2 separate regions of the Homo sapiens genome follow, and region 1 is linked to region 2. Evidence: fine-mapped expression QTL. A gene starts in region 2. The other region holds a variant in brackets. All regions are shown on one strand. Distances are between the middles of the regions.

The links. PIP is the estimated chance that this variant, and not a neighbour inherited with it, causes the effect.
Region 1: its variant is the best candidate, but not a certain one, in a credible set for the expression of SBK1 in Th2 cells (Schmiedel 2018, PIP 0.62).

Annotation. Positions count from the first base shown.
Region 1 is chr16:28,267,775-28,273,143 of GRCh38, reverse strand. It overlaps a transcript of SBK1 not described here. Among named protein-coding and RNA genes, the nearest start is that of SBK1, 22 kb to the left of the region's middle. The variant AATAATT/T (reference allele first, on the strand shown) is at 2,732.
Region 2 is chr16:28,290,078-28,295,446 of GRCh38, reverse strand. SBK1 (SH3 domain binding kinase 1) reads right to left here and starts at 2,922. Exons shown (of 4, transcript NM_001024401.3): 1 at 2,147-2,922. It overlaps LOC124903670 (a long non-coding RNA gene), which reads left to right and starts at 3,382. Exons shown (of 2, transcript XR_007065033.1): 1 at 3,382-3,680. RefSeq lists silencers at 2,822-3,051, 3,259-3,430.

The sequences.
Region 1 (5,369 bases), 22 kb after region 2:
AGGCCATGAGTTCGAGACCAGCCTGGGCAACATAATGAGACCCTGTCTCTAAAAAAAGAAAAAAATAATTCTCAAAATGGTATTAGCACTCCTGTGTTCTTTACAACAATATTCACAATAGCCAAATGTAGAAATAACCCAAATGGGTTGAATGGATGAAAAAAATGTGATCTATACATGCAACAGGGACTACTACAATTAAGCCTTAAAAATATGCGATGACAGGCCAGGCATGGTGGCTCACGCCTGTAATCCCAGCACTTTGGGAGGCCGAAGTGGGTGGATCACAAGGTCAGGAGTTCGAGACCAGCCTGGCCAATATGGTGAAACCCTATCTCTACTAAAAATACAAAAATTAGCCAGGCGTGGTGGGGCATGCCTGTAGTCCCAGCTACTCAGGGGGCTGAGGCAGAAGAATCGCTTGAACCTGGGAGGCAGAGGTTGCAGTGAGCCAAGATCATGCCACTGCACTCCAGCCTGGGTGACAGAGTGAGACTCCGTCTCAAAAAAAAAAAAAAAAAAAAGAAAGAAAGAAAGAAAGAAAAAAAATATGTGACAACATAGATGAAACTCAAGGACATTATGCAAAGCAAAATAAGCCACAGAAGGACACATATCTCATAATTCCACTTATATGGGATATCTAAAGAAGTCTAATTCCTAGATTTTGGTTCTATAGTTGTCAGAGTTGCAGAAGAAATTGGGGAATAGCTCATCAGTAGGCATAAAGATTCAATAAAGCAAGATGAATAAGCTCTAAAGAGCTGCTGTGTAACTCTGTACCAGGGGCTCACACCTGGAATCCCAGCACTTTGGGAGGCTGAGGCTAGAGGACCACTTGAGCCCAGGAGTTCGAAACCAGCCTGGACAACATAGCGAAACTCTGTCCCTATAAAAAATTTAAAAATTAACTGGACATGGTGGCATGCATCTGTAGTCCCAGCTACTCTGGAGGCTGAGGATGGAGGATTGCTTGAGCCCAGGAGATGGAGGCTGCAGTGAGCTGTGATTGTACTCCAGCCTCAGTAACAGAGTAAGACCATGTCTCAAAAAAACAACCATGTATTATACATGTATTGTACATTTAAAAATATGTTAGGAGGACAAATTTCATTAAGTGTCCTTACCACAGTAAAACGAAACTAGCAAATATTCATGTGCAGGATTTTCTGTGGGCATAAATTTTCAACTTATTTGGGTAAATACCAAGGAGCACTTGATATTTTCTGCCATTCTGTGGCTTCTCTTCACATTCTCTTGGCAGAGTCTTTTGCAGGGCAGAAATTTTCATTTTAAATTTCTTTCCCTTTTCTGTTCAAAAGTTTCGGTTTTCCTGGATTTGATAACATTTTTTGGAGAGGGGAGTACTTGTTTACCTACATGTTTATATATCAGTCAACCCATATTCTCCCCTACTTGTGTAAATGTCTCCAAAATTCAAAAACATTAGGTATTCTATCAATTTCATCTCCTTGAAGAGATCTCTTCTCTTATTTGAGTGTGAACTGCGAGATTCTCTTCTCCTCTCTCTTACATTCAATTCCTGTTTCCTGGAGTCCAGATGTTACTCTCTTTTTTGGGGGTGGGGGGACGGAGTCGCATTCTGTCACCCAGCCTGGAGTGCAGTGGTGTGATCTTGGCTCACTGCAACCTCCGCCTCCCAGGTTCAAGTGATTCTCCTGTCTCAGCCTCCCAAGTAGCTGAGATTACAGGCGTGTGCCACCATGCCCAGCTAATTTTTGTATTTTTAGTAGAAATGGGGTTTCACCATGTTGGCCAGGCTGGTCTTCAACTCCCGACCTCAGGTGATCTGCCTGCTTTGGCCTCCTAAAGTGCTAAGATTACAGGTGTGAGCCACTACTCCTGGCCCAGGTCTTACTCTTTATTGTTTTTCTTGTTTACTATTTCTTGTTTTACTTGGTTTACTCCCTTATTTTAGTGGAGTACATCCTCCAGTAGCTTTCTCAAGTAAGGGTGCGTAGGCCGGGTGCAGTGGCTCACGCCTGTAATCCCAGCACTTTGGGAGGCTGAGACGGGTGGATCACAAGGTCAGGAGATCGAGACCATCCTGGCTAACATGGTGAAACCCCGTCTCTACTAAAAGTACAAAAAATTAGCCAGGCGTGGTGGCGGGCGCCTGTAGTCCCAGCTACTCGGGAGGCTGAGGCAGGAGAATGGCATGTACCCGGGAGGCGGAGCTTGCAGTGAGCGGAGAGCACGCTGTTGCACTCCAGCCTGGGCAACAGAGCAAGACTCCGTCTCAAAAAATAAATAAATAAATAAATAAATAAATAAATAAATAAATAAATAAGAAAGGGTGCATAGGAGGTAAAATTTTTGAGCTCTTGCCAATCTGAAAATATTGTTTTTTCTACTCTCACTTTATTAGTAGTTTGGCTAAGTATTGAATTCTATGCTGAGGGCTGGGCACAGTGGCTCATGCCTGTAATCCCAGCACTTTGGGAGGCTGAAATGGGAGGATCACTTGAGCCAGGAGTTCAAGACCAGCCTGGGCAACATGGTAAAACCCTGTTTCTACAAAAATTAAAAAATTGGCCGGGTGTGGTGGCACTGCCTGTGGTCCCAGGTACCCAGGAGGCTCAGATAGGAGGATCATTTGGGCTCAGGAGGTTGAGACTGCAGTGAGACATGATTGTGCCACTGCACTGTAGCCTGGGTGACAGAGCAAAACCCTGTCTTTAGTAATAATAATAATAATAATAATAATAAT[AATAATT/T]CTAGGCTGAAAATAATTTTCTTTTCTACTTTTGGAAACATAGTTCCGGCAGATCGTGGTGGCTCACGCCTGTAATTCCAGCACTTTGGGAGGCCGAGGTGGGTGGATCACGAGATCAAGAGATCGAGACCATCCTGGCCAACATGGTGAAACCTCATCTCTACTAAAAATACAAAAATTATCTGGCTGTGGGGGTGTGCGCCTGTAGTCCCAGCTACTCTTGAGGCTGAGGCAGGAGAATCGCTTGAACCTGGGAGGCGGAGGTTGAGTGGAGATCACGCCACTGCACTCCAGCCTGGCGACAGAGCACAAGACTGTGTCTCAAAAAAACAAAAACAAAAATGGAAAAAACATAGTTCATTGTCTTCTCGTTTCCAGGATTGCTGTTGAGAAGTCCGATGCCATTATGATTCTTGATACTCTATACAATTTTGGAGAATTTTCTTCTTGTCCCAGTGTCTTGAAATTTACTGGCGATTGGCTTTGGCATGAGTCTATTTTTATCCTTTGTTTTTGTTTGTTTGTTTGTTTGAGACGGAGTCTTGCTCTGTCACCCAGGCTGGAGTGCAGTGGTGCAATCTTGGCTCACTGCAACCCCCACCTCCCGAGTTCAAGCGATTCTCGTGCCTCAGCCTTGAGAGTAGCTGGGACTACAGGTGCGTGCCACCACTCTCAGCTAATTTTTTTTTTTTTGTATTTTTAGTAGAGATGGGATTTTACCATACAGGCCAGGCTGGTCTCAAACTCCTGACCTCAACTGATCCTGCTGCCTCGGCCTCCCAAAGTGCTGGGATTACAGGCATGAGCCACCACACCCAGCCTATTTTTATCCTTTGGATGGTCACTCCGTGGGCTCTTTTAATCAGGAAACTCAGGCCCTTCAGTTCTAAGAAATAGTGGAAACATTTTTTTGACTATTTCCTCTCCTCTCTACTGTCTTTCTGGAGCTCCTTTGTTCAGATGTGGGATGCCTGCACTGATCCTCTAATCTTCATACCCTTTCTTTCCTATTTCCCATCTGTAGTAGTCATGGAGGTGGCTGCTTGGTTCTCCTTTCAAGAAAGAACTTGCAGGCCAGGCATGGTGGCTCACACCTGTAATCCCAGCACTTTGGGAGGCCGAGGCTGGTGAATCACCTGTGGTCGGGAATTCGAGACCAGCCTGACTAACATGGTGAAACCCCACCTCTACTAAAAAATACAAAAGTGAGCCAGGCATGGTGGCGGGCGCTTTTAATCCCAGCTACTCAGGAGGCTGAGGCAGGAGAATCGCTTGAACCCAGGAGGCAGAGGTTGCAGTGAGCCAAGATTGCACCCTTGCACTCCAGCCTGGGTGACAGAGCAAGACTCCATCTCAAAAAAAAAAAAAAAAAAAGGAAAGAACTTGCTATTTGGCTTTGAGGATTGCAGTTGGCTGACAGCCTTCAACTACACTGTCTTTGAGATCTGCCACAGCAGTTGAGCCAAAACTAAGGTCTTGTTGGGCAGCTCCAGCCAATGACTGAGGACAGTGGGGACAGTGGGGACACTGGAGCTCCTCTCCTGGACAATGTTTGCTCTTGAGCTTCTCTATAGGTTGGCCAAGACTGCTGGATCAACACCAAAGTGGCTGCCTAGCTCTTTTTTCCTTCTTTCTTTTTTTTTCGAGACAGAGTCTCGCTCTGTCACCCAGACTGGAGTGCAGTGGTGCGATCTCGGCTCACTGCAACCTCCGCCTCCCAGGTTCAAGCAATTCTCGTGTCTCAGCCTTCTGAGTAGCTGGGACTACAGGCACGTGCCACCATGCCTGATTAATTTTTGTATTTTTAGTAGAAACAGGGTTTTGCCATTTTGGCCAGGCTGGTCTCGAACTCCTGACCTCAGGTGATCCACCCGCCTCAGCCTCCCAAAGTGCTGGGATTACAGGTATGAGCCACCGAGCCTGGCCAATAGTTTTGATTTCTGGGCAACATAGTGAGACCCATCTTTACAAAAAAAAAAAAAACCCATTTTTAAAAATTAGCCAGGTGTGGTGGTGCACACCTATGATCTCAGCTACTCAGGAGGCTGAGGTAGGAGGATTGCTTGAACCCCAGAAGTGGAGGCTGCAGTGAGCCCTGATCCCACCACTGCACTCCAGCCTAGTTGACAGGGTGAGACTCTATCTCTACACAAAAACAAAAACCAAAAAACCCCCAGAACTGTTACTACTATATTTAGATATTTAAGAAAATATACTATAACTATGAAACAAAAACTGGATGCTATTTGACAGGGAGAGGGACCTCCAGGAATGAACAAAACTGTTTTATAAAGATGGGGTCTCACCATGTTGCCCAGGCTGGTCTCAAACTCCTAGGCTCAAGCAATCCTCCCACCTCAGCCCCCCAAGTAGCTGGGACTACAGGTGCACACCACCACGCCTGGTTAATTTTTACCTTTTTTTAGAGACAAGGTCTTGCTATGTGGCTCAGGCTGGTCTTGAACTCCTGGCCTCAAGCAATCCTCCCAGTTCAGCCTCCCAAAGCGCTGGGATTACAGGCACGAGCCACTGCGCCTGGCCGCAAGGACATTTGAGGATTTAAGCCCTTCTTACCCTAGTCCTCCTGGGGTTCAGCCCCAGCTTTACTCTCATTTCCAGAGGTACTTAGGCT
Region 2 (5,369 bases):
TACTACGTGCCAGCTCAGGTCAGCTCAAAAAGGGAGGTGGAGGCAGAAAACGGCTCCGGAGCCATCCTAGAGTGGGGCTTTTCAGGTCAGGGGAAGAGCACGTGACGGAGGCAGAGAATTAGAGGACACGGAGGAGATGGGCTAGGAGAGGTGGTTTAGGGCCAGGCTGCAGTCCAGAGACTATCTGGACTCAGCGACTTGATTCTGGACTCAATGGAGAGCCACTGCAGGTTAGTGAGGAGGGGAGGTCTTGCTCCTTGTCCTCCTCTGGCCTCCTCACAGTTTGCCCTGGACACAGTGACTCAAATTTCTGCTCTTCAGCCTCTGGTTCCACTGCCTTGCCTGTGGGGTGTGTGACAAAGCCCTGGGCTTCTGGGAACCCCCACTGGGGGGAAATGAACTCCTTCAGCAATGGGTAGAGCAAACCTGGATGCTTGTCCTGCCCAATTTCGATCTCCATCCGCCCTTCAAGCTGCAGAGAGGCTCACTCTCTGTCATTTTCTCTGGGAAGGGCCACGTGCTTGCCCAAGGTCACTCAGTCTTCAGGGCACCTGATTCCCCCACAGCCTGTGCTGAAGGTGGCTGCCTCAACTGTCCTGAAATTGGCAGGAGAGGCTGCCAGAGGTCTGCCCGCATCAAGTGCCCCCTACCCTCGTCTCCAGCTGGTCACATCCTCACCCTTGGGTCAGTGCCAGCAGCAGGTGGGGGTGGGGGCACTTGGTGCTGGGAAGGTGGGAGATGAGGAGTCAGCCACCCAGGCTCAGGGCTCCCAAGGCTGTAGCAGGACAGGGATCAGCTGCTTCAGGTGTAGGGTCAAGAATCTCTCAGCTGGACCTGGCCCGGTCCACTTCAACAGGCCCAATGGGACGTGCCCAGGGGTCTGATGATCAGGAGACATCAAGAAAGGAGATAGGAATGAAGTGGGGAAAAGGACCCTGACTCTAGCGCATGGTCCATCACAGACATTGGCGACAGGTTTGTTGAATGAATAAGTGAAGGAGCTACTGGCAGGGCTAGCTGTATCCTGGGTCCTGCCTTCCCGAGCCTCAGTTTGTGCACCTATCAAATGGGTCCAGCATCACTGCTTGTCTGCAGAAGGCTCAGAGAGAAGAGATGAGAGGAACTCCCAGCAGCCCAGAGTGTGTTCTTTCCATGCAGTCCAGCCCCTTCTCAGGATCTGATTCAGGATTTCAGGGTACAATGTCCCCTAGGGTCTCTCGGCTTCCTCATATGCGGTAGAGCCTGGGGTTCAGGACCTCACTGAGGGCCAGGCTGGGGTACGGCCGTGTGTACCACCTGGAAAGCCACAGTGAGACCCTGGAATTGGCCCTTGGTTGTCTGGGACACATTGAGCCAACCCTTGGTTTAACCTGGGTGTTCTCCAGGTTAGGAGGGGAAGGGAAAGACTTGGGTTGCTGTCCCTGGGACAAATGGGAACAGAACGGTGCCCTGACCTGAAATAGCTTCTTCATCTAGGCTACCTCTCCTCCCCAGAAACTAGCGCCTCACTTTGGGGGGTACTTACTCCCTCCCTGTCCCACAGGGAGTACAAAGTATGGTTTAGGTAAAGACCGCCAGTGTGGCCTGGGTCGGGCAGCAGAGTCACAGGGAAGATGCGATTCCCATTCATCCGCTCAAACACACCCCTTCCCCGCACTCTCACAGACAAAGACACACACCCGAAGCCCCAGCCATCACCCAGGGCCACATAAGGCAGCCCCCCTCACCTGTGGGCACCCCCAAATTTTCCCCTCTCGGGGGGACTTCACTAGAAGCTCAGCTTGGCCGTGGGGGAGGGGTATTCACACTCCAAGGACCTGGGGGCCAACCTCCAGGCTCGCAGCTTTTGGGGGGGGACTCTCCGCCCTCTTCCCCCCTCTCCATGGCACAACGGGCTCCACCACCACTCCTCCGTGGGGCCGGGGAGCTGCGCCCGAGCCTCAAGGCTAGGGAGTGGGGTGGGGGAAGGGAGAGGAGGAGGGGGCGGCTCCTCCAAGCGAGACACAAAGAGACGTCCTTCAGCCTCGGCTCCATGGCGACGCTGGGGAAGGGGGAGCGCGCAACCCGATACTTCCTTCCCCACCTGCAGGGCTATGGGGACCTCGGTGGCCACTCACCTGCCGCCCCTCACCTGGGCCCGGCTTACCTGGGCTGGGGCCGCGGGGACGCCGCGGCAGGGGGCCTGGGCGCCGTCGCGGTCTTCGTCTGCCCGGCCCCGGGGGCTCAGGGCGCCACGACCATGGACCGGGGTGCAAGCGGTGCCGCCAGGGGCTCAGTCGCCCAAGTCCTGGAGCTTTAGGGGGGGGATCCCCGAGGCTTCTTGCTGGTGAGAGTGTCTCTTGCTGTCCCCGGCTGCCTAGATTTGGGATTTCTATGTACCGGAGTTGGGGGGAATTGGGATCCCCTGATCTAGGGGCGTTCTGAGCTGGGTCTTCTTGTCTTGAGGTGTGGAGTTGTAATGACCGGATCTTGGGAGGGGGTTCTCGCAATCCCGGCCTGGGGGCACTGCGTTCTAGGTCTTGGGGCGGGGGCCCAGACTGAGGAGGGGGAGTCCTTGCGGTGCCGTAGGGGGCTTGCTGTCTTCTAAATACCGAGGAAGTCTCCGCTTTCCCCGCAGGGGAGTCGCTCGGTGTCGGATCCGGGAGGGCCCCCCCTCTTCCCCGAGGCTCGCCGGATCCTGGATGTGGAAGGGGGCTCCCCGCACTCCTCGGCTGCGGGGGCTTTAGTGGGTCCCGGCCACCGGCGGGCGCTGGAAGCCCCTCAGCCGCTGGGGGGCTCGGTCGCCGCCGCTACGAGCAGCCCGGCCCTGCGCTCCCGGCCCCCGGCCTGGCCCGGGCTCCGGCTGCGGCTCCAGCTCGCGCTCCGCCTGGCGCTCGGGCCCCGGCCCCGGCGCCCGCCCGGGCTGCGCTCCATCGCGGCATCGCGGCTCCGCCCTCCAGCCAGCGCGCACCTGCCCGCCCGGCCCGCGGCTCCGCCCTCCGGCTCGCGCGCCGCCGCCCGCCCCTTTGTCCGTCCCGCTCGGCGCGCGCCCTCGCGCAAGCGCGCTCACCCGCCGCGCGCCCGCCCTCCCGCCGCGCGCCGCGGAGCGCAGATTCTCCCCGCGCGGCGCCCCCACCCCCTTCCGGCCGCGCTGGGTCCTAGCGCCGGTGGCTCCCGAGCTGGCTCCCACCCCCCACCCCCCACCCACCCCACTCCTTTTCTAGGTCAGAGCCCACGAGGGGGCGAGAACGAGGTTACAGAGGACTCGGGGGAGTCTGAGAGGGTCACCTGGTCCAGCTTTCTGGGCCCTGCGGGACGAGACTGCCCCAGACTGTCCCGGTCTGTGCTAGTGGGGCGGAGCCTGTGTGTGTTTGAAGGAGGGAAAACAAATCCAGGTTCTGCATTCGGATATGCATTTCATTCATCCATGCGTCCGCCTGCCTGCCTGCGCTTCCATCCATCCATCCATCCGTCCGTCCATCCATCCATCCATCCATCCATGCATCCTATTTCCAGCGAGACGTCAGAGAACTCACAGTCTTCTTGGGGAAGAGGTCATAAACTTGGGCCTGGGTGGTTGCCCTATCCAACTGAGGTCGCCTTTGCGATCCCTGCTGCAAATAGGCAGTGACTAGTCCAGGAGTGCAGCTGGGAGGAACTGCTCGCCGGATAGAAGGGAAGAAAGGAGATTCTAGGCAGAGGTACAGCAGGTGTAAGGGATGTTGCATTGTCTGTTTGATAACCGGAAATTGGTGGCCTGGATGAAGTGGGTGGATGGGGACAGAGATGAGATAGGGACAGCTCGTCCTTCCAGGCCCTGTTCTTTCTCCTCCCTGCAGCTCACTCTTTCCCTAGTGAGAAAGCCCCAATAGGACGCCTTCCCTATTTCTTTCTTTTTTTTTTGTTTTTTTAGCTTCAAGCTTCAAAAGCATTTCTTTTTCATTCTTTTTTTTAATTATTATTATACTTTAAGTTTTAGGGTACATATGCACAACATGCAGGTTTGTTACGTATGTATACGTGTGCCATGTTGGTGTGCTGCACCCATTAACTCGTCATTTAGCATTAGGTATATCTCCTAATGCTATCCCTCCCCCTTCCCCCCACCCCACAACAGTCCCTGGTGTGTGATGTTCCCCTTCCTGTGTCCATGTGTTCTCTTTGTTCAATTCCCACCTATGAGTGAGAACATGCGGTGTTTGGTTTTTTGTCCTTGCGATAGTTTGCTGAGAATGATGGTTTCCAGCTTCATCCATGTCCCTACAAAGGACATGAACTCATCATTTTTTATGACTGCCCCTATTTCTTCTAAGTTTTTGATCAGGCTGTTTTCTCAACCCAGCGTAATCCTCCCAGCCACTCCCGACTGTTTCCAGAGCTTTAGGAGCCAGGGATTGCAAACGCAAGTACCTACAGGCGCAGACATGAGCGACTGGGGTCGCATGTAAAGTGATAGAGAGGGTGGAGAAGAGGGGAACTGGAGACATCGTGGGCTGTGCGTGGCTGGATGATATTCAAAGAGAAGCAGGACATCCAGAAATCTTCCAACTTTTAAATGTTTGAAACGAATTCCCAAAATTCGGAAATATTGAATGGGCCAAATGAAACACACTTTGCAGACAAATCTGGCCCCCAGACCATAGGTTGGCAACCTCTACCATTGAGAATATTGTTTCAGTTCTTAACTTGTCGGCCTCCTGCCTCTGTCTAGATTGTCTTTTTTCTCTTTTCTTTTCTTCTCTTCTCTTCTCCTTTCTTTCTTTTTCTCTCCCCGCCCTTCCTTCCTTCCTTTCTTCTTTCCTTCCTTCCTGCCTTCCTACCTTCCTTCTTTTTTTGACAGAGTCTTGCTCTGCTGCCCAGCCTGGAGTGCAATGGCACGATCTTGCCTCACCGCAACCTCTGCCTGCGGGGTTCAAGTGATTCTCCTGGCTCAGCCTCCTGAGTAGCTGGGATTACAGGCGTGTGCCACTATGCCTGGCTAATTTTTGTATTTTTACTACAGACGGGGTTTCATCATGTTGGCCAGGCTGGTCTCAAACTCCTGACTTCAAGTGATCCACCCACCTCAGCCTCCCAAAGTGCTAGGATTACAGGCATGAGCCACCGTGCCTGGTGATTGTCTTTTTTCTAGAATCCAAATCCTTTGGGATCATCAGGTCTGTAAAATACAAATGGGGTTGGGTTGCTGTCTTACATAAAACTGCCAAGGACTTCCTGTGTACCATCAGGGTAAAGTCTAACCTTACTTATCCTGGCATTCAAAGCCCTTAACATTTAGAGCCTGCTCTCCATTCCCCTACAAAGGACCTCTCTTCTCCATTCGGCCTTGACCTCAGCCACGCTATTCTAGGACATCTGCCTCTGTCTTTTTTTTTTTTTTTTGAGACAGG